Linked DNA regions of Homo sapiens: region 1 is linked to region 2. The links come from fine-mapping of genetic effects on gene expression. A gene starts in region 2. The other region holds a variant in brackets. All regions are shown on one strand. Distances are from middle to middle. Region 1 overlaps CREB1 (cAMP responsive element binding protein 1). Region 2 holds the start of METTL21A (methyltransferase 21A, HSPA lysine).

The links. PIP is the estimated chance that this variant, and not a neighbour inherited with it, causes the effect.
Region 1: its variant is fine-mapped to the expression of METTL21A in whole blood (INTERVAL, PIP 0.98).

What each region holds. Positions count from the first base shown.
Region 1 is chr2:207,564,078-207,576,185 of GRCh38, forward strand. CREB1 (cAMP responsive element binding protein 1) reads left to right here. Exons shown (of 8, transcript NM_004379.5): 4 at 3,386-3,486; 5 at 6,102-6,244; 6 at 11,195-11,377. Among named protein-coding and RNA genes, the nearest start is that of CREB1, 40 kb to the left of the region's middle. The variant C/T (reference allele first, on the strand shown) is at 5,844.
Region 2 is chr2:207,619,485-207,631,592 of GRCh38, forward strand. It overlaps METTL21A (methyltransferase 21A, HSPA lysine), which reads right to left and starts at 5,910. Exons shown (of 4, transcript NM_001127395.5): 1 at 5,578-5,910; 2 at 4,745-4,920; 3 at 2,322-2,433. The coding sequence starts at 4,891. RefSeq lists enhancers at 329-418, 6,376-7,080, 7,081-7,783 and a silencer at 5,506-6,105.

The DNA of each region.
Region 1 (12,108 bases), 55 kb before region 2:
CTTGTTTTATAATACGAATACTTAAAATTTAGAAATAAGAAAAATGTATGCCTGTGTAAAATTTTTCTTATTTATAAGAGATACATGCAGATCAAAAGAGTTGGAAGATCATTGATCTAGACTTTCAGTAAGCTTCTTGATCCAATGAGTAAAACACTGTATCTAAGGCCAGGTGCAGTGGCCTATAATCCCAGCCCAGGCAGGAGGATTGCTTAAAGCCAGGAGTTCAAGACCAGCCTGGGCAACATAGCAAGACCCTGTCTCTACAAAAAAATTAAAAATTAGCTGGGAGTGGTAGTGCATGCCTGCAATCCCAGCTAACTCAGGAGGTTGAGTCTGGAGGATCCCTTGAGCCCATGAGTTTGAGGCTGCAGTGGGCTGTGATCGCACCACTGCACTCCAGCCTCGGTGAGTGAGTGAGATCCTGTCTCTTAAAAAAAAAAAATCTTAAAAAAAAAATATATATCCAAACCATGAGTCTCAACTCTACCGAGGGATAGTACTTAAGTTTCCAAAGGACCATATATAGGTTTAGGAAACATCGAATATTACCATTGTTTTGATTGGTTCTAGTTACTTTATAGTTTATTTTAAAATTTCAAATAATCGAAACGGGGTCCTCCACCTTTCCAATATAAACAGGTAGTATGGGTTTTAAATAAACCAAAGTTGAGAAATACAGACCTAAAACTTTATATCTACAAGTGGTAGTTTAGCTTTTTGAAAATTTCTTGACTTACAAGTGGCCAAAATTAAAGACCTATTTAAGGAATTCAGAAAGAAGTTAATAAGTGATAGGAGATGAGAATAAAAGGAAGGGGTTCCATCATTGGAATGTGATGATGATACGTGATGTTTATAATTGGGATATAATTTTTCATATGATGTTTTTATTCTGTTATTTATAAAAATAGATTTTTGACATGATTTTTATTGATCTCAGTTATGTGGGTCCAGTATGTTTTTTTTTTTTTAACATCAGTTTTAGGTTCACAGCAAAATTGAGAGGAAGCTACAGAGATTACCTGTATACTCCCTCCCCAACTCCATGGATAGCTTCCCCTGTTCTTAACATCCTCCCCCAGAACGGTACATTTATGTTATAATTTGATGACCCTACATTAACACATCATAATTACCCAGAGTCCATAGTTTACATTAAACTTCATTCTTGGCTTGGTATATTCTGTGGCAGTATTTTTATTATTGATTAAGTGATAGATCAGGGACTCCATAGGAATTAGCTTCATGGCTTACTTCTCTTCAGATGGTATTCCCAAAGAGGAAGTGTTGTGTTTATTTCAGTGGTCTGAATTCTCTTTACATTTACAAAGTTGCAAGCACTAAATAGTGATAAGTTAATTCCTTCTGTGTGAATTGACAAAATCTTACAGGTCAGAGAAAGGCAACCTTTTTTTTTTTTTTCATTAAGGGCCATAGATCCAGAGTTAGAAAAAAAAAGGACACAGATTAAAAAACAACATTAATTTGTTTCATTTCAAAACTATCCTGTGGGTAGTTTATATGGCATGTTTTAATGTTGTTGTTTTAGTGAGTTCCAACTTGGAAGGGGGGTGTTCCCTAATCACTATATGTCCTTAAGAGAAGCATGTAAGGATGGGGCATATGAGAGTCAAGCAGTGGACACAGAAAGAGCCACAGAGGAGCTAAGTGAATTCTGAGTGGCGTATTAATGAAGGGAAACAACACTTGTCACAGTACTATCAACTTTGAGTTCAGTCTTGTTATTCCTTGAATTTCTGATCCTTTCCTCAGGCCTTTTCATAGCTCCTGATCTTCTGTATGTGAGAAAGTTTGTGCAGAGACTCTTGTGTGTGGGCTAGTTACAGCAGCTACTGATTAACGTGAAACTTTTCTGTGTGCTTCTTTGGCAGTAATTACAGCATTATTATTCTGCTGAGAATCACAGACTAAATTCAGCATTACTCATCTTTTTATCTGTCATTTGTGAATTCATTATATGTTGCCTATTGATTTTTAGGTCTTTCAGATTGTACTTAGACTTTAAAGTGTTTGGATGGGGCAAATTACTTCATTATAAATATATTTTACTACAAGTTACTAACTTTACCTGGTTTCATTTTAAATGAGCATGCATATCACAAAGCCCTGTAAAATGAATGCCCACTTGGGAGAACTGTTAGGCTCAGACCACACATAGAGTACGCTTGGAATTTCTCAAGTACTTCTGAATATGTTTTCTTACTGCCATTGCCATACGTTTTGACGTGGAGCTGACCTACATAGACCCTTTTGTCTTGGTTAAGTATAATTCTTACTCTGACCGCATAATGTGCCCCTAGTTCAGGAAAGAGCATAACGTTTCTGCTGATTAGAGAAACTTGGGCAGTGTAAATTTGACAATCAAGCATACTTAGGTAAGTGAACTCTTCTAGTCTAGAAAAGGTGTGAAAATGCCACTGGTTGCTGCTTCTGACAAACCTGGTTTGAGACTATAACAGTCTGGTTTGAGACTGGAACCACCAGGATTTTGATGCTGGTAAGGATGTCTAAAATGGAGGTTAATGACAGTGGCTCCACTACTTCCTAGCTTTGTGACTCGGGTGAGTTACTTCTTTGTGCCTTAGTTCTTCCATCTATGGAATGGATATAATAGTATAGTACCCATCTGGCGCCTACATTACTGTGAGTATTAAGTAATGTAGTATATGTAAATGCATTAGCATAACACCTGGCACATAGGCATCTGTAAATTCTAGTTTCTATCATTAATATCCCATGTAAATTTTTTATTCACTTATCTTCATTACTTTTCAGTCTAGGTATTCTTATCAGAAAAGCATAGTTCTTTACCTTGAATTTTTACTTAAAAGTGATTATAGAATGCTAACTTTGAAACATGTTAGGAGTTTTTCCTAACTTGCTAGGAACAACTGTCAGGGATGTCATGATGGATCGCCAGTCTTACTGTACAACTGTAAATATATTCATAAGTGTTTATACAGTTAAATAATAATATTTGTATAGTCACTATATAGACTTAGGACCAAATATTTAGCCATCCATTTTATCCTTTATATCAGAAACCTTATTTTAGTTGGTAGTTTTGTTCCAACAGATGTAAGAAAAAACTGATAAGTAATACTGATGCATTCAGGATTGATTACATGGAGTCCTGAAAAAAAAATTAAACTGCAGCTATTTTAGGTTCTCTAACTTCATCGTAGTTTATAGGGTAAGTAAAGGGAAGGGGAAAGTGATTGGTGTGGTTGTCTCCCATAAGAACTGATTTTTTTCTACTGAAGCATGTATAAAGTTTATATATGACTTTTTATATTTGTTTAATAAAAATTTTACAGGAACTAAATTTGATTATCAATATGAAGTTTTTCTTTAATTTCAGATTTCAACTATTGCAGAAAGTGAAGATTCACAGGAGTCAGTGGATAGTGTAACTGATTCCCAAAAGCGAAGGGAAATTCTTTCAAGGAGGCCTTCCTACAGGTATGGAATTTAATAGTTAGAATCAAAGATGTGGAGGAAGTCTTAGGTAGTTGCAGATAAAGAGATGTCAGAAGACCAGTTAGTTGTTCACGTCAGTTCCTTATAGATTACTTTTCTTCATCTTGAGTTATTTGTCTCAAATAAAGTGGAAGCTTATCCTACAGAATAAGAAGAGCACTTGTTACTCTCACCAGTCCTAATTTTTTTTTTTTCTGTTTCTGTTTCTGTAGACTGTGCTGGCTGTCTTTCTGTTAAAAGTTTGGAATACAGTTGATAAGGTTATAGCATTTTTTAGTTATAAGCCAACTCTGAGGCTCTGTTATTTATCTACTTAGTAACACATTGCAAACCATTTTTTATGCCATGGTACTTAACAGATAGCTATTAATTTAATAATTGTCTCAGGGAGATGCTTTACTAACATCCCCTAATTTTAGCAGTAGCTTACTGTAATTTTTGTGTTCAGTTATAGATGTTGCCTAGTCCATGCCTTGCCTCCAAGGTGAACCAAAACCATTTTTTAATGTAAAAATTAGCTCCACATTAAATATCTTCAGGAAGGGCAGTTCCATAAATCTTGATAAGTTTACTTCAGCATTGAAGAAACTTCAGACTCATAATTATCTTCCTTGTTAGTGTAAATTATTTTTTATATATTCCTATTTTTCAAAGGGATGGTTTTTTCCCCCCGCTTGGCTATTAAACTAACCCTTTTCTCTGTCCTTACAATTAAATTAAGAATCCTAAGTGACTAGCAATAAATAGATTTTGAGGTCTAAGAAATTTTATATTACCAGTTTATGTTATATGTATTTATATTCATAATTTATTTTAAGTATAGCTAGTGTTAGATTTTAACTTTGAAGTATATCTCCTGTTAGTATATAACACATTTGATCCTGAAGCAAATCCAACCAAATACTACTAGTAAAGTAATTACACAGGTAAATATAAAAGCCAGGATTATTATAGTTTTGGTTTGTAACTCCTTTTTTTCCTATGTGATTGGAAAGACAAAGGCATAGAACAATAACTATAAATTTATGTGACTAAGCACATGATATATGAAGATGTCATTTTTGACAATAGCATAAAGGGACAGAGTTTATAACTAGTTTGTTACAAATTTAAGATATCAAAAATTACTTGGGTTAGGGTTTTTAGGGGTTTTTTCCCACCTTTCAGTGTGATTATGTTATTCATTTGAAATATGGTATGGTTCCTTTGTTTTTGGGTTCCATTTTAGAGTTTCTCCACCCATCCTTGTTGATCTTTATTTTTTTTTCTAGTAAGTGAAACATTTAACACTGTACCAAAAGTCAGAATTGCACAAAAAAAGTATACTCAGTAGTGCCTCCCCATTCCTTCTGTCGTTTTCATTTCTTTCCTACCCATCCCCAGTAAATAGCTAAAACCATTACTCTCTCGTTTATCCATCCTGATTTTTTTCCTTGAACAAATGAGCAGATACATGTCTGTTTTCATATTTCCCTTTTTTCCTTACACAAAAGATATGCTGTATCCATTATTTGGATGTACCATAGTTGATTCAACCACTTGCCTTTATATGGGCATATAGATTGTTTCCAGTATTTTTTTTCCTTTTTATTTGTTTTTCTATTTTAGACCTTGGATATATGGCTCCAGTATTTTGCAGTTACAAACAGTGCCAATGGGAATAATCTTAAGCGAGTTTATTTTAATATTGTTGGAATTGGGGTGAATTCCTGGAAATGGGATTGAGGCACGAACACCCATATTTCCTTAAATATCAACAATTCCTTATATCGGGATTGTGCCAGTTTTATACTCCCAGCAGCAATGTATGAGAGTGTGGTGTTTTTTGTTTTTGTTTTTGTTTTTTTTGTAGCTTTGCTAACAGATTTTGTTAACACTTTTTTGTTTCCCAATCTGAGAAGTGAGAATTTAAAAATCAGGTTTTGATCTTTTTTCCCTTTAGTTGATTGTTGACTTTTTACTTTCCGACTTTGTGTATGTGTTCTTTGAGATGCAAAAGATTTTTTTTAATGTAGTCAGTCTTATTATTACCCTTAATTGCACCCTTCCTTACATTGAGGTTAAAGATAATACATCTTTTTTTTTGTTTTTGTACATATTTGGGTTCCTTTTGACATCTAGATCAATCCCTGACCCATGAAGAGTTTATTCATGTAATTTATATATTTTAAACTTCTGCTGGCTGGGTGCAGTGGCTCACACCTGTAATCCCAGCACTTCGGGAGGCCAAGGCGGGTGGATCACATGAGGTCAGGAGTTCGAGACCATCCTGGCCAACATGGTGAAACCCCATCTACTAAAAATACCAAAAAAATTAGCCAGGCGTGGTGGCAGGCGCC[C/T]GTAGTCCCACCTACTCTGGAGGCTGTTGCAGAATTGCTTGAACCCGGGAGGCGGAGGTTGCAGTGAACCAAGATCGCGCCACTGCACTCCAGCCTGGCGACAGAGCAAGACTCCATCTCAAAAAAAAAAAAAAAAAAAAAACCTTCTGTCCTAAGCACTAGCAGCTTTCTGTGAGTTTTCTCATCTTTAACTATATTTGTATTTAGCCAGTAAATTGTACTTATATTTTTAATTATTCTAGTTTTCTAATTTTGTAGGAAAATTTTGAATGACTTATCTTCTGATGCACCAGGAGTGCCAAGGATTGAAGAAGAGAAGTCTGAAGAGGAGACTTCAGCACCTGCCATCACCACTGTAACGGTGCCAACTCCAATTTACCAAACTAGCAGTGGACAGTATAGTGAGTAATAGACAATTTCTGTTTCTATTGTGAGGAGAAAAAAGTGAGGAGAAAAAGCTAATAGTTGCATTCTCTTCAGAGAAACCAATACAAGTGCCAAGTCTTCTCAGTTTTGCTGCCATTATTATATTTCCTTTACTCTTCACTATGCAAAGGTCTGTAATGGTAGTATTTTCTTTTCTTCAGAGAGTTTTAGTTAGGATTAGTCAAGTGTATAAACCTTTTAGATGTCCTTTTGTTTTTGTGCAGATGCATGGAAAGTCTGAAGTTTTTGAACCACTAATTGAGACCCTAGGTTTGAGGCCTCATGTGTTGAGAGAACATAAGTTTTTTAGATTAAAAAAAATCATTCCTTGAATATATCTCGGTATTCATTTTAATAGTTTGTCTTGCCTTCTGAAAGTAGCATTTTAATGTCTTCGTATTTAATAATGTTTCAAGTGGGGATAAGCATGGCTTGGTTGAGTCAGCACATTCAATTATTCCTTTTCATATGAAAGATAGTAATATACTTTTTGGCCCACATAAAGCAAAAATTGCTCTTACAAAATTATTTAAAAGTTTTCATTTCTATGATGTCTCTGTCTGGCACTTAGGTCTGTCTTCTTATCTTTCACCAAAATCTGTTATAAGACACTTTTGAATTTTATTTTGTTTGATCAAAAGCATTTGTGTGAATGGTACTTTTTTCTCTTTTTCCCTTTTTTTTTTTTGCCTCTCAAAGTGCTTTATTCATTCAGTGATTTTTTTCATTTGTATTTGTTTATTAAACCTGGTGCTGCCCATTTATACCCTTTTCCCCACCCACCTTAGTTTCAAATTAAATGTACACATTGAAACTTCTTTACTGAGATAGTTTCCTAATCCCTGAGGGAATCTGTATCAGAAATATGCATAAAAGTTTGAGGCCAGGCACAGTGGCTCATGCCTGTATTCCCAGCACTTTGGGAAGCCAAAGTGGAAGGATCACTTGAGCCATCCAGGAGTTTAAGACCCCATCCCTATTTATAAAAATAATTTAAAAATTAAGAAATATGCATGAAAGTTTGACCCCCATGTTATTTTTTAGTTCCAGTTCAACTTTGTTTTGCGTAACTCTAATTTGCATTCCCATCTGTATTAAAGACAAGTTCTCAAGTAGCAAACTTTTTAACTCTGCCAAGGCTGAAACTTTTGAGACTAAGTAGAAGGAAGGCATTTTTGACTAAGGTTTTTATCCACTGTGCTCAATTAGCTTAGTCATCTTTTTTCTTCTTAAGATCTTTGTGGCAGATATAAAGTACAACTCTTTACCTACAATTCTGTACGTGTATGTGTATTATCAGTTGAAGCCTCATACCAGATGCTTTTAGTTATTCAAGATATGTGTTCGAAGACATTGATACATGATGTTTATTTTTCTTCTACTTCAGCATACCTGAGGGATACAACATACTCCTGTCAGTAACAGATTCACTGTTACAGAGATTCTCACTTGAACTAGGAAGCATGCTCTTTAGGAAAGAGGCCTATCAGAATCTAAAAAGGGGAAATGAAGGTTAGAAAAGTACCAGCACCCCCATAGATGTTTAATTTGGTACACTCGTCTCCTCCAGCAGCTGAAAATTGCTAGTTTTAAGAGATTGAGCCAGGCGCCGTGGCTCTCGCCTGTAATCCCAGCACGCTGGGAGGCCAAGGTGGTGGATCATGAGGTCAGGAGTTCAAGACCAGCCTGCCCAACATGGTGAAACCCTGCCTCCACTAAAAATACAAAAATTAGCCGGGCATAGTGGCGGACGCCTGTAATCCCAGCTACTCGGGAGGCTGAGACAGGAGAATTGCTTGAACCCAGGAGGCGGAGCTGGCAGTGAGCTGAGATCACACCACTGCACTCCAGCCTGGGTGGCAGAGCAAGATTCCGTCTCAAAAAAAAAAAAAAAAAAGAGAGATTAATACTTTGAAATTTTTAAAGCTTTGTTCATTATTTTTATCCTGTGTCCTCTCTGTATATGTACACATGGCTTTGGCTTTGATGGAACTGATTTAACATTATATTCTTGATTTTCATTAAGAGCAATATAATAAATACATATACAGCAACATTTATATTTCTTAACTTATAAAATGAACATATGGTTGTCAGAATTCACCATAGATATATAAACACACATAGTTATATATTTTGTTTAATAGCTGCATTGTGTTTCACTGTGTAAATACAGCACTTATTTAAACATTCTCCTGCTGATGAACATTTAGGACATTTCTATTGTTTCAAACAGTGCTACATAAATATCCTAAGAGTGGAATTATCGACCATCCTGGCTAACACGGTGAAAACCCGTCTCTACTAAAAATACAAAAAATTAGCCGAGCGAGGTGGCGGGCACCTGTAGTCCCAGCTACTCGGGAGGCTGAGGCAGGAGAATGGTGTGAACCCAGAGGGCGGAGCCTGCAGTGAGCCGAGATAGCGCCACTGCATTCCAGCCTGGGCAACAGCGAGACTCCATCTCAAAAAAAAAAAAAAGAGTGGAATTATCAAATTAAAGCATATCCTCCGCAAGTACCCTTCCAGGTGGAGGCATGAATTTCCACTCCTTCCTTAAATTGGTTATTTTATTAAATTCATGCTGTTACTAGATTTATCTGTTACTTATTAGTTCAGTGTCCCAGATAGTAAAATCTTATTAGTGATTCTGCTCTTAGATAGAAAATGTGTATCTGTCATTTTGAACTTGAATTTTTTTGTTTCAGTAAATAAAACTATGACTCATGATGTTTCCCTCTTTATTCTGGCAACTCAGATTCTTAGCTAACTTTCTGTTTAATTGTATTCTTTTCTTAGTCTAGATTTTCTTCTACAATTGTTTTATATAACTAAGGATACATCCGTTACTTGACTTCTGTCTTTTTATTTTTGTTTTAATGAATTGTGTTTTATTGAAAGCTATCTCAAATCTTTTTGGAATAATAAAGTGTATACATAAACATTATAGAGAAAAACTGTGTTCAGTAGGATTAGACTTCAGTTTCCAAAGTATTTTCATATACATGACCTCATTTGATATTTACAACAATTGTACTTAGTGGCTAGAACCCAGATGCTTTTGTTTTTAGAGAAGAGAGAACAGAATCAAATAACAGTTTAGTGATGGCTGGGCACAGTGGCTCACGTCTGTGATCCCAACACTTGGGGAGGCCAAAGTGGGAGGACTGCTTGAGGCCAGGAGTTCAAGATCAGCCTGGGCAACATAGCAAAACCCTGTCTCTACAAAAAAATGTCTTTAGAAAATTAGTAGGGCCTGATGTCCTGTGCTAGCTACTTGGGAGGCTGAGGCAGGAGGATCACTTGAGCCCACCAGTTGGAGGCTACAGTGAGCTGTGATCTTGCCACTGCACTCCAGCCTGGAAGACAGAACAAGACCCTGTCTCAAAAGAAAAAAATTAAAACAAAAAACTGTTCAGTGATGGAACTCAAACTACAACCCAGTCTTGTCATATATGGTTTACTATTTCTTTCTTCTTCCCACCTTGAATTCACTGCTCTGTAGCCAAGAAGAAAGTGGTATGTTAAATACAGTAGGATTCACTCATTAACTCTAAATGAGAAATTGTGATTTGTTTCTGTTAACCTTCTGATTCTTTCAAGTAATCATGCAAAATTAATCTTAGAATAGTTCTTACTCATTTTTCTCCCTGCCTAAGATAAGTAAAACTTCTGGGATTAGCTAAACTAGATCCAGTGTATATGCCAGCATTTTAATTTTCACAAGTGTCATTTTGCTAAACTAATCACACTGTAGCCATTAACTCTTCTTACTTCTTGATGAGGCAGTAATCAATTTTCCATGTACAGATGTCTCAGGATGTTATTTCCCATAGCTGGTGGATAACTGATCCCAAACTAATTCCCTTCTAATGGACAGTAACATGCTTAATCAGACATGTTGACTTTCCTGCATTGTTTACTTTTTTCTTACTCAGTTAAAATCAGTTTTGTAGTTTTATATGTGATATTGTGATTTTTGGTCCTTCTCTTTCTGAAAAGCTTGACCCCTACAGGGAGAATTGTCTAGAGAGGATATTGCCACCTATCTAAAAATGCTTCTTCCAAATAAATCATCTAATTTTTAAATTAAATTTTTCTATGTACTGTAGCATAAAGGTGATTTAGTTTTTCATAAAGTGAAATATCTACTAGTATGAGCAAAAGTTGACTGATTTATTGTTTAACAAATGAATGACAGGTGTGGCTAATTAGGGCATAAACAACAAAGGGTTCTATATGAGAATGCTTGGATATGTATTAAATAATTTAGAAATGACAGTTAAAGTTTTTTTTCTAAATGATGATCTTGAGCTCTGATTTTAAAATTCCATGAGAGACTGTTGATAATTAAGTTCCATAGGATATTTCAGTTGTTTCATTGAGTGGATTAGATACCATTAAAGAATTTCTACAAGAGTTAGGGAATACAATGCACTGATGAACTGCTTTATTAGTTATATGTTAAAACAACCATTTATTGGGTGCCTATTTCATGGCTGCCACTGTGCTAAGTGTATGAAAGTATATAAGAAAATTCCTACTCTCCAGAAATTTATTTACTAGTGGGACAAGTATTAATACATTATGCAGTTAATGCTAAAATAAAAGAAAGGATCACAGAGTGGAACCTCTTCAGAACCAAATAACTTCAGAAGGAATTTAACATTTTTCCACTTAAAAAAATTGTTAACAGGCATTATTATTATAAATTAGAATGCAGTTCATAGAGTGCATTTCTATTGTAGAAGTTGAATATGGGTTTCCTGAGGAGCAAGTTACTTGAATATATTAGACCCTTCTTGGTGATGTTATTTGCTGTAACTTCTCCTAGATTATTTTACAAATTATTCTACATTGGATGTAATGTTTTAAAAGTCTTATATGGTATTAAACTTGTAACAATAAAATCCATTGGCTTTTAGTTGCCATTACCCAGGGAGGAGCAATACAGCTGGCTAACAATGGTACCGATGGGGTACAGGGCCTGCAAACATTAACCATGACCAATGCAGCAGCCACTCAGCCGGGTACTACCATTCTACAGTATGCACAGACCACTGATGGACAGCAGATCTTAGTGCCCAGCAACCAAGTTGTTGTTCAAGGTAAGGGAATTCAGAATTCACAGGTGTGGTAAATTCTTCAAAATACTAAAATTTTATAAACTCACAGAAAAAGTAAGTATCATATTGCAAACCACCATTCAAATGTAGTTAACATTTCTTCAATATTGATAGTATTTTTCATGAACTCTTCCATTATTCCAATTGGACCAAAATGTCATGGCATAAAAACAACTATTTTCAGTTTTTAAAATATTGCATCTACCTTTAACATCTTTTGGGGTAGAAGAAACAGGATAGGTTAGAAGGAAAGACCAGGAAATCAGGAGTTAGAAAAGATGGATTCTGTATCTAACTGCATGGATCTGCTATGAGGCCTTGAGTAAAAGTCAGCTGCTCTGAGCCTCAGGAAAGTGTTTTGTTTTTTGTTGTTGTTGTTTTTGTTTTTTCATCTGTAAAATAAGAGTTGCACTGAATCTCTGGAAACAATCTTCAGAAGTTCAGGATTCTGTTTCTCTGCTTCCCCCCCCCCCCCCAAAAGAAATTTAAATCTTCTGAGATCATCAGTTTTTATTATTATTATTATTATTTTTTTCTAGAGACATGGTCTCACTGTGTTGCCCAGGCTAGTCTTGAACTCCGGGCCTCAAGCAATCCTCCTTTCTCAGGCTCCCAAAGTGTTGGGATGCCTCTGCACTTGACTCAGTTTTTGTTTCAAATGAAAACATTATATTCCACAGGATCTTATACCAATATGCAAATCTGCTGCTCTT
Region 2 (12,108 bases):
CACTTTGTAGTGACTACAAATAGTGAGTATGAAAATCATACAGTAGCAGAGAAATGCTTATGACATAATGTGAAAACATCATTTGTATAGGTGTGTGTATACGGATACACAAAACACACATACGCAGACATATATATTTACATATATATAATCATAATTACAACTATGATTAAAAATACAGATGGAGAGAAACAAAACATACCAAAATGCTAATGGTAACTCTGGTGGTATCTGAAATATCTTATTCTGACTTTCCCAACCCCAGAGAACCAGATTGCTAGATCAGAAAAAGCAGTTACTCAGAGAGTAATCAACACTCGTGGAGCACTTCCTTTGTGTCACTCAGTGAGCCAGCAGATGTTATACACGCAATCTCATTGGTTCCTCACTGTGGAGTAAATATTACTATTATGCACAATGTACAGATGGGGTAATCAATGTTTAAAGGTTAAGCAACTTGCCCAAGGTCACACGACTAGTAAGAATGAAAAGAAATGTCAAAACCAAGTATAACTAAGCCTATGCACTTTGCTACACTAACATGTCTATACACCAGCCAAGAAAGTTTTGCATGAAGCCCTGGTTCTCAGGAGGAAACAGAAGAAACCTCATTTCCCCTTATAGTAACTCTTATATCAGCAGAGAGAGAAGTTGGTGTTACAGAAAAAAATAAAACAGGCCAGGCACGGTGGCTCACTCCTGTAATCCCAGCACTTTGGGAGGCCAAGGTGGGCAGATCACCTGAGGTCAGGAGTTCGAGACCAGCCTGGCCAACATGGTAAAACCCCATCTCTACCAAAAATAAAAAATTAGCTGGGCGTGGTGGCACATGCCTGTAGTCCCAGCTACTAGGGAAACTAAGGCAGGAGAATTGCTTGAACCCGGGAGGCGGAGGTTGCAGTGAGCCGAGATCATGCCACTGCACTCCAGCCTGGGCAACAGAGTGAGACTCCATCTCAAAAAATAAATAAATAAAATAAAATAAAATAAAATAAAATAAAACAACTAACTGTGTCTAACAAGCCTGGTTTTGAGTCCCAGATCTCCAGTGATCAGGACTTCAGAAAGTAGCTTCATCTCCCAGAATCCCAGCTTTGTTTGAAAAATGAAAATTAAAAATAATACCTAACATACACGGGAATGTTCTAAGGCTCACCTGAAAAGAATAAAAGGCAGTGTACCAGCAAGGGCTTCATCGATGACTTAAGTGCTGTGGTTGAAGACGGACGGAAACCTCTGTCAATTTACACAGACTTTCAACCACCACCCCTGCCCATGCTCCCTGTCGAATTTTGGAAAGCAGCAGCTAAGCAGAAAAAGAAATAGTGAAAAAGTATTGGGTTTCTGGAAAACAGGCAGGACAAAAGAGGGGCTTTAGCTGGTCCTCAAATATCTGTAGACAATGCGATGGGTTTAGAATACTCTGGAATCCTGGATCCTTCCTACCCAAGTGTAGTCTGAGAACCAGCAGTGTCGGCATCACTACTGACATTTCTACTGCTTGTTAGAAATGCAGGTTCCCAGGCCCTGGTCCAGCCCTGCCAAATCAGAATCTGCATTTTAACAAGAGCACCAGGTGACAATATGGAAGTGATAAACATTATACATTGTATCTTGAAAGCTGGTCTACCCTTATGATTAGATAGCTTGAACTATATATGTCAGAAGTTATAGAAATGAGTCAATAGTCAATAATAAAAATAACAATGAAGCCTAAAAATGCTCTAGCTCCAAGCCTCAATTAATGTGTGTATACCAAATTTTAAAATGACAAACTTTGATATCAAGTCAGAACTGTATACTGTTCATACAATTTTAAAAATAAGAAGTCAGTACAAACTATAGTGGGGGCTAGCCCTCCCTACAAGAGAAAAACCAGCAAAGTTTCCTCAGCAATGAAGAAAAGACTATCTGCTCTATCTCCCTCACAGGGTTAAATCAGATAGTGTATGGGAAAGAAAGCCCCTGAATGTGAAAAAAACTCTATACATGGGTAAGATTATTCTCCTTGAATCAACTCACTTTAAGATCGTATTATTGGCATCACAGAATTGAAGGGGGCAGAGCAATCTCCCATGGGAAGTATAAATAACAGAGTGTGTGTGTGTGTGAGAGAGAGAGACAGAAATTAGAGAGAGAGAAATTAGCCCGTTAGCCTCACTGGAGTTAAGAACCCCAGCAGTTGGCCCACAACTCATAAGTATAAGCAAAAGATAATAACCCAGTAAGGGGAAAACCCACGAAGGGTTTTGCGCTAAGAAAACAGCAAATGCACCTCTCAATGAGTTCTGCTCACTAAGGAGTCAATGCATGACACTCACCCAGCAGGGCAGCCACTATGCCCACCAGCCCCGTGCCAGCACCCAGCTCCACGGCAGAGCGGCCCCTGAGCTCCACAGCTCCCATCTCCAGGTATGTGGAAAGAACGATGGCCTGAATGAAAACACAGTGTGATGACGATTAAGGTCAACATGTGCTTGAGTAGCTGCAGGGTTTCAGGTCAGCTACACCCACCCCTCTCCCACTTCGAGGTTCAATTCCCAGCTTAACAACACACACAGGAACTTAGCTGGTGCAGCAAGGTAACCTCCCCCTTAGAGCAAGCACAGGGTCCCACAGCAGTGCCCAGAGATGATGCCCACACTAAATGGGGTCCTGCTGGATCTGGAAAGCTTAATTTTTTTTTTTTTTTTTTTTTGAGATGGAGTCTCAGTCCATCTGTCACCCAGGCTGGAGTGCAGTGGCACAATCTCAGCTCACTGCAACCTCCACCTCCCAAGCTCAAGCGATTCTCCCACCTCAGCACCCCCAGTAACTGGGACACAGGCGTGCACCACCACACCCAGCTAATTTTTGTAGTTTTTTTGGTAGAGATGGGGTTTTGCCATGTTGGCCAAGCTGGTCTTGAACTCCTGAGCTCCTGCGTCAGCTTCCCAAAGTGCTAGGATTATAGGCGTGAGCTATCACACCCAGCCTGGAAAGCTTAACTTTTTACTGTGTCACAGCACTTTTATGCTTGAAGTTTACACAACTATTCTGCAAGAACTGACATGAACAATTTCTATGATTTTGTTTAAGGGAATGCCCAGTTCCTAAACCAAACTCAGGTCAGCAAAGCCACAACTTCACCCATAGGGAAAAAGCAACACATTGCCCAAGGGTCTCTGAACTGCGTCACTGATGGTCATCGCCCCACAGGGGCCCTCACCATACGTTTTGGGCATCAGAAGGTAAGTTTTGGCCAAAGTTTTGGATACTTGATGTGTGGTTTCAACATTTGTTTATGACCCTACAGAAAGAAGTGTATAAAGCTAACATAACTTGTTACTATAATTTATTTCTCACAGCCGCATACTGTGAGTATAATTGGCAATTCCTCTTCTTGGTGAGCATTTACGAGTCTTCCCATTCCTCGTTATTATTTATCTTTTTTTTTTTTTTGAGATGTAGTCTCACTCTGTCACCCAGGATGTAGTGCAGTGGTGCAATCCCAGCTCCCTGCAACCTCTGCCTCCCAGGTTCAAGCGATTCTCCTGCCTCAGCCTTCCGAGTAGCTAGGACTACAGGTGTGCGCCACCACGGCTAATTTTTGTATTTTCAGTAGAGATGGAGTTTCGCCATGTTGGCTAGGCTGGTTTCGAACTCTTGACTTCAAGTGATCTGCCCACCTCGGCCTCCCAAACTGCTGGGATTACAGGTGTGAGCCACCACACCAGGCCTATATCTTTATTATTACCAGAGTAACTTCCATGTAGTTACCTGGACTGGATTCCTAGAAGTGGTATTACTACATTAGAATATATTGAGATTTTTATTCCTACGTGTTTAACATCCCTAACAATGTTAAAACTGTCAAACTGTATTTATGCCAATCATGCATTCAACATTAATTGAGTTCCCACTGAGTCCTAGGTGTGGGGCTAGATGCTGAGGGCTCAAGTCAGAACAGGGCAGGGAGAGGAAGAAGTTAAAAAGCAGTTACAATTTTTTAACAATTACAACTATGGAAAACTTAAAGAAAACACATAATCTCCATTTTGGGCTCTGCCACTTTACAATACTCTGTGAAATAAAGAGACTAACTCGGCTGGGCGCTGTGGCTCACGCCTGTAATCCCAGCACTTTGGGAGGCTGAGGCAGGTGGATCACTTGAGGTCAGGAGTTCCAGATCAGCCTGGCCAACATGTCGAAACCCCATCTCTACCAAAAAATACAAAAATTAACCAGGTGTGGTGGCGTGCACCTGTAGCCCCAGTTACTCCAGAGGCTGAGGTGGGAGAATCACTTGAACCCAGGAAGCGGAGGCTGCATTGAGCCAGGATCGCACCACTGCACTCCAGCCTGGGCAACAGAACGAGACTATGTCTCAAAAGAAAAAAAGACTAACTCGTGTCCAAAGCAGTTGGGGGCTTTCCTTCCTATCCTCTCCGACAAGTCATTAACTTTCCTCAGCTTTCATTTACACCTTTAAAATGTAATCTATGTGGAGGGACAAGAGGAGTGACTAAGGGATACGGGTTTGAGAGTGGCAGTGATAGTAAAACTTTTAAAATTGAAGCGGTAATAGTTGCACTACTCTGTGAATATACTGTATTTTTAAAACCGCACTGAATTGTGCACTTTAAATAGGTAAAGTGTATGCTATGTGAATTATATCTCAATAAAGCTGTTCTAAAAAAAATAAAAAATAAAAGCCAGTCTTGCAAGTGTGAACGTTTTCAGAGGTCCCCCAGGGCTTACTTACCGCATCCCAAACCACCGCTGCGACTCCCAGGTGTCTCCAGTCCTGCCGGATCTGGATCGTGTGGTTTGCAAAGGAAAAAGTTGCAAGAGGCTTGTGGAATTTCTGCAACCCAAATTCCGTGGTCTCCTCATAGGGCACGAGGGCCATTCCGCCTGCACCCCGCCCTCTGCTCAGACCTGCCGTGCAAAAGAATCCTGGGTGACGCTCTGGCCAAAAGATACATTATCTGTTCTTAACTAACTCCAAATGCTTTTAAGGTCGTTTACAAGTTCAAAAGAAAAAAAGAAACAGGTGGAGGAAGCCTTTGTCCAATTTCTTTTGCATGGCTCTTCCGAATCTGAGTGAGATTTGGCTCGGAATTTGTGTCAACGGATGTGTTTGGGGAAGAAGAAAAAAAAAGCCCAGAACATTCCAACTTCCGCAGAATACCCTATACACTGCACTGCTACCACTCCGTGAATTCAGAACTACACAAGCGGCGGAAGCGGCGGTGATCGCCCAGGGCCCCAGAGCAGCGCGGAAAGCAGCGCTTCCAACCCAGACCCGGGCGCCCGGACTGCAGCTGCAGCCAGCCGGGCGGCCCGGGTTCTTTCGCTACGGTTTCGCTACCCACCTCCCCTCCTCCATCGGCTGCTTCGATAGTGATAACAATGGGACAGAACCTGCCCTTAGACTGGGTGTTAGCGGTTTGATAAACCAGAAATACATGGTCGCCGCAGTTCCGTCTCCCCGACCCTGGAAGTGAGCGACACTGGGGGCCTCCAAGCGGCTCGCGGGGACAGCGGGGACTCGGAGGCCTCCCCGAACTCCCCCTATAGCTGCCCCCCACTCACCCCTCTCCCGGGACGACCAGTGCGCCCTTCCTGCCCGGGGGCCCCGGAGCTGCGGCAACCCTCCAGGGGTGAGAGGGAGACCAGGCGAGGGGGGTCACAGGGCCTCTTAGGATCCCCAGGCCATACGGGGCGCCGTGAGCTGCCCGGCGGAGCACCCAGGGCTCGCCCAGGCCGGGCTGAGGCGCCGCCACGCCGGTACTTACGGCCCGGGAGGCGGTCCCGCGTGGAGCGCGCGCTCCGCTTTCCCCGCCCCGGGCTGGCTGCGAAAACCGCCGGCCTTAAAGAGCCCGCGACGCGGGGGCGGGCGGCCCCGGCCCGGAGCCACGCATTTCCGGTCTCCCGGCACCCAGCCTCCGGCAGGTGCCCCCGGAGCTCACGGCGAGGGCGGGGCCGGGCCGTGGCGCGGTGGAGGAGTGACGTTGCGGGAGGGGGGACCGGGGCTTTCCCTCGTGCGTCCCCAGGGTACACGGACGACTTAATCCGTTTCCCCCGCCGCCGAGGGAGGCGCTGTGGGGGCGGGAGCAAGAGTGAGATCGGGGTGCCGAACTGCCGCGGGTGCACAGGGAGAGCATGGGGTGCCCTGGGCTCTCCTAGCGGGAGAGAAAAGCCACCCACCTGGCGCTGAATGTGCCTCTCGACCTTTTCTATCATGTGCTCCGCCGCTCTCTGCCTCTGACTTTGTCGCTTGCGCGTTGTGCCTGTTTTTTAAAGGTGGCGCGTTAGCGGATGATGGAGACAGCTCGCTCCGAAGAAGGCATGGTCACTCTAGTCCCCGCGTCTCCACGGTGGGGTCAGAAGCGGCGTAATAGCCCGCTTGGCGGCAATCGAGTGGAAAAGTCACAAAACCCTTTTCAACTAAAGCACAGTGGGGGAAGTGAACACGTGGCGCCCGAGTCCAAGTTTTTAAAGTGGGGCGGGGGTCGGCGGGCTCTGGCTGCAGTCGGAAGCGCGGAGCTCTGGGCGTGCGCTCGGCTCCAGCCCCGGCCCCAGGCGGCGCTGCAGACTCCAGTGCCCCAGTCTCCCTCCTCCCGATGCCAAGACGCACCTGCCCGTGAGGACCCACGCTGGACGTGGAAGGTGCCGAGGGCCTGGTACCCTGGCCGCAGGCCCTGGCAGAGCGCGCGGCTGGAGTGGGTCCATTGAGTGGGACCGTGCGGGGACCGGCATCCTCCCGGGGCAGGCTTCTTTTTCCTCCTGGGGCCCCTCGCCCCACACCGCCCGCTGCGCTCTCAGCGCGGCTGCACGTTAGAACCAGCTGGGGTAAACCTCCCTTACCAGTCCCCCGCCCCAAGAGCTGGCCATGGGAGGGGGCCCGAGCGCTGATTTTTTTGTTTGGTTTTTTGCTTTTGTTTTTGTTTTTGTTTTTGTTTTGAGACGGAGTCTCTCTCTGTCGCCCAGGCTGGAGTGCAAGGGCGCGAACTCGGCTCACTGCAGTCTCCGCCTTCCGGGTTCAAGCGATTCTCCTGCCTCATTCTCCCGTGTAGCTAGGATTACAGGCCTGCGCCAGCACGCCAGCTAATTTTTGTGGGATTTTGTTTGTTTGTTTGAGACGGAGTCTTGCTCTGTCGCCAGGCTGGAGTGCAGTGGCGCGATCTCGGCTCACTGCAGCCTCCACCTCCCGGGTTCAAGCAGTTCTCCTGCCTCAGCCTCCAAAGTAGCTGGAATTACAGGCGCCCGCCGCCACACCCGGCTTTTTTTGTGTTTTTAGTAGAGACGGGGCTTCACCATGTTGGCCAGGCTGGCCTTGAACTCCTGATCTCCGGTGATCCGCTCATCTCAGCCTCCCAAAATGCGGGATTACAGGTGTGAACCACTGCCACCTCCCCCACCCCTACCGCCCGAGCGCTGATTTTTTTTTTTTATTATTATTATTCAGAGTTTCGCTCTTGTCACCCAGGGTGGAGTGCAATGGCATGATCTCGGCTCACTGCAACCTCCGCCTCCCAGGTTCAAGGGATTCTCCTGCCTCAGCCTCCAAGTAGCTTAGATTAAGGGGCCCACCACCACGACTGGCTAATTTTTGTATTTTTAGTAGAGACGGGGGTTTCACCACGTTGGCCAGACTGGTCTCGAACTCATGACTAAAGGTGATCCACCCGCCTCGGCCTCGCAAAGTGCTGGGATCACAGGCATGAGCCACCGCGCCCGGCAAGCGCTGATATTTTTAAGAGCTCCCGGGGCCGCCCCCGGGAGCCTGCTTCCCGCGGTGGGAGCCTGGCGGGGGCCTGAACCTCTCTCTCCTGGCCTCTTCCGTCCTGTAGGCGGCGTCCCCGGCCTCCAGATTAATCTTCCATCGGAAGGTGGGGCCTGTGGCTTCGAGGGTAACCTCAGGGAACTTGGAAGACCACCAGTGAGGGACTTTTACCTCCTTTTTCGTTTTCTTTTTTGGTCCTCTCGCTTTCTCTCTTAGTATTTCCTTTCTCTCTTACCTCCTGCACTTGGTGTTTCTGCCTCTCAGCTTTCCCTTTATCGAAGACCTCCCTTTCTTGCCTTTATTTTCTCTCTGTCCCTTTTTGCAGGGAGAACCAGCAATGGGCACAAGAAAGAACATGTATGGGCTTTGGGGCCAGACAAATATGGAAAATTTAAATTATTCCTCTGACTCTTTAAATGGGATGACTTTGGGAAATTACTAAACCTCGCTAGATCCCAGGCTGCTCATCCCTGAAGCCTGGCATGGAGCCTTGGGCCCCTTCTGTTTTTTCTCCCTATTCTCCATCCTTTCTGCTGAAATCAAGCATATGACCTCAAAAAACAAAGCAAAACCTTCCCCACCTCTCCAGCACTCTAACATGGAACATGTGCCTCATTATATTATGAGTTTTCTAGGAAGGTGTCATTTACTTTTTCTCAACCGTCTTGTCCTCCCAATGTTCTAAGCTGTATCAGATGGCTCAGGAAGCACCAAAAGGAATATTGAGGAACATATGCAACTCGTATAGCAGTGTAGCCATTAAGCAGAGCTCTGTTTTTATCAAAATAAGCCAGTGGTCCACTGAATATTTGAAAATACATTTTTAATCCTAAAAACAAGTTGGTGTGTGGCAGACTACATATTGTTTGGAGTAGTCGGCCAAGTGTGGTGGCTCACGCCTGTAATCCTAACACTTTGGGAGGCCAGGGTGGGAGGATCACTTGAGCCCAGGAGTTCAAGATCAGCCTGGCCAACATAGTAAGACCCCATGTCTAAAAAAATTTTTTTAAAGGCCAGGTGCAGTGGCTCACACCTGTAATCCCAGCACTTTGGGAGGCTGAGGCGGGTGGATTACAAGGTCAGAAGATCGAGACCATCCTGGCTAACACGGTGAAACCCCATGTCTACTAAAAATACTAAAAATTAGCCGGGCATGGTGGTGGACACCTGTAGTCCCAGCTACTCAGGAGGCTGAGGCAGAAGAATGGCGTGAACCCAGGAGGCAGAGCTTGCAGTGAGCTGAGATTGCACCACTGCACTCCAGCCTGGGTGACAGAGCGAGACTCTGTCTCAAAAAAAAAAAAATTTAAAAAAAAAAATAGCCGAGCATGGTGGTGCACACCTATAGTCCCAGCTACGTGGGAGGTTGAGGTGGGAGGATCATGTGAGCCCAGAGGTGGAGGCTTCAGTGAGTCCTGAAGTCACACCACTGCACTGTATCCTGGGTGACACAGCAAGACCCTGTCTCAAAAAAAAAAAAAAAGAAATTCTGACAGTCTTTTTTTTTTTTTTTTTTTTTGACACAGAGTCTTCTCACTCTGTCACCCAGGCTGGAGTGCAGTGGTGCAATCATGGCTCACTGCAGCCTGGACCTCTTGGGTTCAGGCATCCTCCCACCTCAGCCTCCTAAGTAGCTGGGACTACAGGTGTGTGCCACCACACCCAGCTAATTTTATTTTTTGTATAGAGAGAGTCTTGACATAGAGTCTTGACATGATGCCCAGGCTGGACTTGAACTCCTAGCCTCAAGTGATCCCCCCACCTCCTTCTTCAGCCTCCCAAAGTGCTGGGATTACAGGCGGGAGCCACTGAGCCTGGCCTCTCCTGACAGTCTTGTTAGGAATATGCAAAAAGATAGATTTACTTCCCGCATTGTTTGTAATTCCGAAGTGCAGTTTAATCGTAGTGTTAACAGTGTATAAAATAGTGCTTTAGCTGGGCGAGGTGGCTCACGCCTGTAATCCTAGCACTTTAGGAGGCCGAGGCGGACGGATCACCTGAGGTCAGGAGTTCGAGACCAGCCTGACCAACATGGAGAAACCCCATCTCTACCAAAAATACAAAATTAGTCTGGCATGATGGCGCATGCCTGTAATCCCAGCTACTCGGGAGGCTGAGGCAGGAGAATCTCTTGAACCCAGTAGGCAGAGGTTGCAGTGAGCCAAGATCACGCCATTGCACTCCAGCCTGGGCAACGAGTGAAACTCTGTCTCAAAAAAAAAAAAAATAGTGCTTTTTACTTTTATCTGAATGATTGAAATGTCCTTTTCCCAATCCTATGATGCCTGACTGCAAAATAATGGTAGAAGGACACTTAGGCCTTTGTCCCTCCTGTCTCCTGGAACTAGTCCATGTCCAAGGTCATAGTAGAAGCAGTCACCTTGCTACTACCTTGGCACAGCTTGATCCCTATGTTCCCCCAGGCATGTTCCCTTTTTAGGCCAGGGTGGATACCCAACCCCACGCTGGGTACATAATTCTCTCTGCAGAAAGAATGCAGAGTGACTATCAGACATCTGTTGTTACTGCCTGCCCAACATCTATTTCTCATTTTCCTGGTAGCAGCAGTTCTCTTCTGCTGATGGTCAGGAGCCCAGCTTCTGGAGTGCAAGTTCTGCACCAACTCAGCTCTGCAATTTATTAGCTGTGAGGGCTTGGGTGAAATGCATTAACCTGTGTCTCAATGTCCTCATCTATAAAATAGGGATAATGTGATTATTGTATGAGTAAACAACAAAGATAACCTGAGATTAAAATGAGTTAACTTATCTACTTAGAATTGCGCCCAACAAACACATTTTATAGAGCATTTGCTTATACTGTTATGTGTTTGGACTGGTCTATCCTCAGCCCTTACTACATGATCAGGCACATGCCCCAGGCCTGGCCAATATGAACACAGTCCTTCCACCTGGCCACAGGTAGGTGAGATGTGAACATGTAACCAAAGCTGGGCCTAACCAGAACCCATTCTGAGACTTGAGACTCTCAGAGAACCAGCCTGTTGGGGAAGGATAGAAATTTAGAGGTCCTATTGGCCATCTGGTCCCAAGAGAACAAAACTAGCAGCAAATGTGGCCAGTGAAGGCGCTGGTGGAGAGAGAGGCTGCCTCCTGTTGATGTTTGACCACCTGGATCCAGCTGTCCTGGAATTTTCAGTTATTTGAGCCATTAAATTCCCTAATTAGCTTAAGCTGTCATTTGAGCAGCTTTTTTTTTTTTTTTCCATATCCTGAAGAAGAAAAACAATCCTAATACATTCAGTCTGGGCCGGTCCCTTGAGCAAAGGAGAGATATAAAGCCATGCCTGTATGGGGCCATCTTCACTGTGCGGTATAGATGGAGAAACCATTCTACAGAGAGCAGTCACCAGCAGAAACTTGGGGCTGAGCTGCCAGCTGCCGTTTTCCTGATGCCTCTCTTGTCCTGAGCCCTTCCTGGCTGCACCTGGGTTCTCAGGTCCCATGGGAACCCAGGGTAACCAGACAAGACATTTTCCTTTCTTGATTAAGCTCGCTGGAGTGCCTGTGACATACATACAGCCAGAGTCCCAGTGAAAAGGATGTTTTTTGTTTTTAGGAAGTGATGTAGACAGAATATAAACATTCTGTAAGTTCCTCAGACCTATTCAATGTTATAATATAGGTAGTATTAAAAGTGTTCTTCAAAAAATTTAAAGAAATTGAGGCCAGGCGCGGTGGCTCACGCCTGTAATCCCAGCACTTTGGGAGGCTGAGGCGGGCGGATCACGAGGTCAGGAGATCGAGACCATCCTGGCTAAAACGGTGAAACCCCATCTCTACTAAAAATACAAAAAATTAGCCGGGCATGGTGGCGGGCGCCTGTGGTTCCAGCTAGTCGGGAGTATGGGGCAGGAGAATGGCATGAACCCGGGAGGCAGAGCTTGCAGTGAGCCGAGATCGCGCCACTGCACACCAGCCTGGGCGACAGAGTGAGACTCCGTCTCAAAAAAAAAAAAAAAAAGGGAAAAAGAAATTGAAGACCAGGCACTATGACTCACGTCTGTAATCCCAGCACTTTGGGAGGCTGAGGCAGGTGGATCACCTGAGGTCAGGAGTTCGAGACCAGCCTGGCCAACATGGTGAAACCCCATCTCTACTGAAAATGCAAAGAATAACCGGTCGTGGTGGTGCACCACTGTAATCCCAGCTACTCAGGATGCTGAGGTAGAAGAATTGCTTCAACCCGGGAGGCGGAGAATGCAGTGAGCCGAGATTGCACCCTCGCACGCCATCTTGGGCAGCAGAGCAAGACCTCATCTCAAAAAAAAAAAAAAAAAAGAAATTGAGACAGAATTTTTAAAGATTTTTTTTTCT